2 separate regions of the Homo sapiens genome follow, and region 1 is linked to region 2. A link means that fine-mapping ties the variant in region 2 to the expression of a gene that starts in the linked region. Tissue or cell type: whole blood. Region 2 holds a variant in brackets; the other region holds the start of a gene. All regions are shown on one strand. Distances are between the middles of the regions.

Region 1 (2,620 bases), 170 kb before region 2:
GGTAAGTGATTCAATTTACCAGAGAATAAGAAAAATGACTTAATAAAGTAGTTAAGATTCTCTTTACAACAGACTAGGAAAGGATAAAATTAAAGGATAGTTCATCAGACCATAACAACCCTTTGGTGCTCAATCAAGACAGAGTTTTGCCAGGAGGGGCATGGCTCACGCCTGTAATCCCCGGACTTTGGGAGGCCAAGACAGGAGGATCGCTTGAGCCCAGGAGTTGGGAGGCTGCAGTGAGACATGATCGTGCCACTGCACTCCACCCTGGGCCACAGAGCGAGACCCTGTCTCAAAAAATAAAAATAAAAAAAAGAGACAGGTAAGTTTTTATCAAAGCTGCCTGAGAGTCACTGGGCACGCCCCACTTGCCAGGTCCTACAGACCAGCAATAACAAGACTAATGCTTTCACCAAACATCAGGAAAATACACAGAAAAGCACCGGGCACTTTTTAAACTGTCATCTTGTTACTGTGACAATACATTTCTGTAGTTAAACAGCACAGTAGGCCTCCAACAAGATGCCCAATTGGGTACATGAAAATCCCGGCCCAAATTAAACACCTGTTTCCAGGAACGCTAGGCTCTTGTCTACATCCCCTACCGTCCCCGGAAGGCAGATAACCCCTCGGGCCTCGTGGGTTAGGTTCGAGTCCCTACAAGTAGGAAGAAGTCGTCAGGGCCCGGCATGTGGTCGCGGCCCAATCTCAATTTAGGGCTGATCCTGACCCTCAAAGCCACCCGGAACGCGCGAGAGGGCGGGACCCGCCATTCTCACAGGGGACCGGGGTGGAACGGCGCCGCGACCCGCCGCCGCGGGCGCCCCTGTCGTGGGGGCGCGGTCTCCCACCGTCCGCGCAGGCTTCGTTAAACCCACCCCGAGTACTCGCCGCCGCCTGGGCTCCGGAGCGGGGAGACGGATGCGAACGGAAAGGAGCGTGGCGGGCGCCCCGCGAGCAGGGAGCCAGGAGCCGCTCGCGCGCCCCTCACCTGAGAGCCGCGGCCACCACAGCCCCACGCGCGGCGCTGGCGCACTCCCGCGGCCCTGAACGGGCTCCCGGCGCCGCGCGCCCGCGCTTCCGGAGGCGGAGAGAGCGGAAAGGGAAAGGAGGGGCGGCGTGGGGCCCGGCGCTTCGGGAGAGGCGGGGGCGCACGCCGGGCCTCGTGCGGCCCTCGCGGCGGGCGTCACAGAGCGCGGCGGGCAGGCGGCCAGGCCGGGGCTCCACGCGGGCGGAGTGGAGGCCGGGCCAGGGACGCGCACACTAGAAGAGCCGCGGAAGAAGGCGGTCCAGCCCGCGTGGTTGCCATGGCGCCCTAGAGGCGTTACTGCTGCTCCCGGCTGCCTAGGGCGGCGCGGGTAGGCCCCGTTGTTCTCGTGCGTTAATAGGGAAAGCTGCCTTGATTATCTTGTAATTCTCTACCAAACCAAGAATAAAAAAGAACGGCGGCTGTGTGTTTGTGATATTTTCTATCAGCAAATTTCAGTTCATACCACTAGTTAGTTCTGTGGACCAGAGGCTGGTTTCAGAATGGAAAGACCTTTGCCGAGTGGTAAACGAGGTGGGTAGTTAAAACAATCTAAGGTAAAAATGATCTCTGCAGAATATATTGAATACAATAACTTCTCGTTGAACTCTCAGGTATGGTAGGATGATGGCACCCCAAAAATGTGCACCTCCTAGTCCCCACAACACGTGAATATGTCACCTTATGTGGCAGACAGGATTTAGCTGATGTGATTAAGGATCAAAATGGGAAGATTAACCAGGATTATCCAGTGAACCCCATGGAATCACAAAGGTCCTTATAAGATGGAGACAAGAAGTTCAAAGTCAGTAGTGGGAGCTGTGAGCACAGAAGCTAGAGGTTGGAGTGATGTCAGAGGCAATGAGCCAAGGAGTGCAGGTAGAAGCTGCAAAAGGAGGAAACGGATTCTCTCCTGAAACCTCAGGAAGGAACTAGAGCCTGCAAATTTTGATTTTAGACTTAATACCTTAAGCACTGTAAGACAATACACCTGTGTTGTTTTAACTACTGAATTTGTAGTAATTTGTTATAGCAGCAATGGTATACAATCCAGTAGTTAATAAATATTGTTCACATCTAAGTGCAAAGAAGGGTAGGAAATATGGGTCTTACCCTGCCTGTCCCGGGGAGTTCCAGTAAGGATTGTCTATTTTCGTCCTTCACAATGCATTTTGTACTTGTTGGTCTTAATTACCAAAAGTATAATCAATTCTCTTTTTGTTGCCTAAAAGACAGCATTGGCTGGGCGCAGTGGCTCACCCCTGTAATCCCAGCACTTCGGGAGGCCGAGGCGGGTGGGGCCCCCTGAGAGGAGTTCAAGACCAGCCTGACTAATATGGTGAAACACTGTCTCTACTAAAAATACAAAAATTAGCTGGGCGTGGTGACGTGAGCCTGTAGTCCCAGCTACTCGGAAGGCTGAGACAGGAGAATCGCTTGAACTCCGGAGGTGGAGGTTGCAGCGAGCCGAGATCGTGCCACTGCACTCCAACCTAGGCAACAGAGTAAGACTGTGTCTCAAAAAAAAAAAAAGCAAGAATTTCACTTTCTTTTAAAGTGCTTAATAAAACTGTGTTGGCACCACTTTCC
Region 2 (2,758 bases):
CTCTGGAACTGTGAGAAATAAATTTCTGTTTCTCATAAATTACCTAGTGTGTGATATTCTGTTACAGCAGCACAGAACAGACAAAGACATTCACCTTTTGGAAAATGCAACACACTTTGTAAAAAATTTCATCTTATAGTAATACTCCACGAGATTCCCTTGAGCATAGACGTTTCCGCGTTCTGCTGCTTCTCTTAAGCACTGCAGGGCAGCTTCCGTATCCTGCCGGATGCCTTGTCCATACAAGTACATGAGCCCAAGTGCACCCTGGGACTCCAGATTCCCATTGCCACATGCTTCGGAATGCCAGTAAAATGCCTAAGAAAAGCACAGTTTCATCATTGTATTTGTGATCCACTAGATGAAATTATAAGGGAATACTAGACAGAAAAGAACTCTGTGTTTCCTAGATAGCACTATTAATCATCTCTAGGAAAGAGCGGTAGGCCTTTGGACGCATTTCACACTAGCACACATGCCTAACACAGTGTGGAGGCGAGTTCCTCCGCTGTCTGTCCACAGTGCAGGTGAGATCACAGTCCAGGCAGCTTATGGCAGAGGAAGACCAGCTGTCCTAGGTTTCAGGATTTGGGGATCTTCAGAGTAAGGATCAGGAAGATGCCAAATAGGAACTCAGTGTCTGAAAGGCGTGAGGCACAGCAGAGGAGGGGAAACCACTGATGCTAAGGGAGAGTTCGAGCTCCCGGTGGATTCTAGAGATAGCAGCTGCTGCGATCAAAGACAACCCAGGATAAACGCTGTATGTAGGCTCAAGCACATTTGCCTCATACTCTGCTACAGTGAATTTGAATTCATTTAAAAAATTCCAGATGGCTGCTTATCTATCCAAAGATGGCCTTAGTTGTTATGTGTCTCTTGCAAATTTGCCATTAACTCCTCTCTCACAAGTAGGACTCAGCCCCCATTTCCTTCTCCTTATAGGATTTTTTGGAAACTGTTTCAACCATTGATGAAAGAGATTATATTTCTGTGAAAATCTTAGATGGATTTTATTTGTAACTAATTCTTGGTATATTTTACTTATTAGTATCAATTTCTCAAGTCAACGGTAATATTCATCTGTTCATGCTTAGAAGGATTTTGGCTGTAATTTCAGGACTGTTTCTCTTCTTTTAGCTTTGATACTATAGTATACAAAATACTCTCACATTCATGGTTTCCTTC[G/A]GTAGAGGTAGGGAAGGGGACATTTATAAATAAAAGGGCTTTGAGATCCTAAAATGTATGCTTTCTTTACATTTAAAGGAACTATAAGAGATATTTAAAACGACATTCCCCACCATTTTCTCAAAAAAAGCAGTGAAACAAATATTAATCTAAATATAACACTAGCATTAAAAAAGAGGGAACGTTACCTTTTCTAACTCCTTGGGCTCCTTGGTTGAGTAATACAGCCCGAGCATACTTTGAGCCTTCACACTAGCTTTGGGATTTCCATTGTCTGCTGCGATAAGCCACAGTCTACAAGAGAAAGTGAGGCATGTTATTCTCGGTTTCAGCATTTCCTTCAAACCTAATCTTGTTCTCAGGTAGGATTACCTTTCAGCTTCCTCATTTGATCGTTTAACACCTTTTCCTTCATAATAAGCTCTTCCGAGGTTGTAAGCAGCTGCAAATTTTAAGTGTCTTGCTTTGGGACATGGAGAATCAAGAATTTTCTTCATATAGTCCACCCCTTTCTCCTTCGACAAAAGAAAGAGCAAAAAAACCCTAGTTTTTAGTTTTACCCAAACTGAATTTCTTTCTCCCAATAAGGCTGTGAAGTGTCCGCCCTCTGACACGATGTATAATACTATGAATCTGTGCCCAAGGGGTACAATTGTCCTGGATTCTGCAGGGCAAGCGATAAGGAGGAAAAGAATCTCTAAAAGTACATCTCCTACTCAGGCACTCCCAGGAGCTCTGGGATATAAGAAATTTCCTTCCTTTTACAGCTGCCTGAGTTGATTTAAGTCTCGATATGGGCTTCCTTTTTTCTCTCCTCCCTCCCATCTAATAACCCTTATCCTGAATCAGCACAGTTCTTAGAACTGGCTAAAGTGGAAGAATGGCCAGGAACAGCTTTCACATTTATAATTCTTACGATACACTTGCGAGCCCCTAACAAACACCGTCTTCCATTCAAGCATACTTTTACTGTGTGCTCATAGTTTGTATCTAATATACAAATCTTATGCACTAATACGACATCTGCTACGTGGTCACAAGGAAAGCATAGAAGATATTCTAACCACTAGCAAGAACAGATCTGTACCCTCCACCCCCAAATCCATCAGACACAAACCTTCAAACATCACCCAAAAGAAGAAAATAATATTGGACAATCAAATATATTTTGGTTTTTGTTTGTTTGAGACAGAGTCTTGCTCTGTCACCCAGGCTGGAGTGCAGTGGCATGATCTTGGCTCACTGCAGCCTCCCAGGTAGCTGGGAATACAAGCATGCACCACCATGCCTGGCTAATTTTTGTATTTTTAGTAGAGCCTGGCCAACATGGTGAAATCCTGTCTCTACTAAAACTACAAAAATTAGCCAGGCGTGGTGGCAGTGCCTGTAATCCCAGCTACTGTGAAGGCTGAGGCAGAAGAATCACTCGAACCCGGGAAGCAGAGGTTGCAGTGAGCCGAGGTCGCGCCATTGCACTCCAGCCTGGGCGACAGAGCGAGACTCCGTCTCAAAAAAAAAAAAAAAAAAAAAAAAAAAAAAAAATATATATATATATATATATATATATATGTAT

The links. PIP is the estimated chance that this variant, and not a neighbour inherited with it, causes the effect.
Region 1: CFAP97 starts here. The variant in region 2 is fine-mapped to the expression of CFAP97 in whole blood (TOPMed, PIP above 0.99).

The regions. Positions count from the first base shown.
Region 1 is chr4:185,202,904-185,205,523 of GRCh38, forward strand. It overlaps CFAP97 (cilia and flagella associated protein 97), which reads right to left and starts at 1,097. Exons shown (of 5, transcript NM_020827.3): 1 at 995-1,097. It also overlaps a transcript of SNX25 not described here. RefSeq lists silencers at 630-1,399, 1,009-1,180 and enhancers at 1,940-2,049, 2,160-2,249.
Region 2 is chr4:185,372,762-185,375,519 of GRCh38, forward strand. It overlaps LRP2BP (LRP2 binding protein), which reads right to left. Exons shown (of 9, transcript NM_001377440.1): 5 at 1,558-1,700; 6 at 1,374-1,479; 7 at 95-318. It also overlaps a transcript of SNX25 not described here. Among named protein-coding and RNA genes, the nearest start is that of LRP2BP, 22 kb to the right of the region's middle. The variant G/A (reference allele first, on the strand shown) is at 1,186.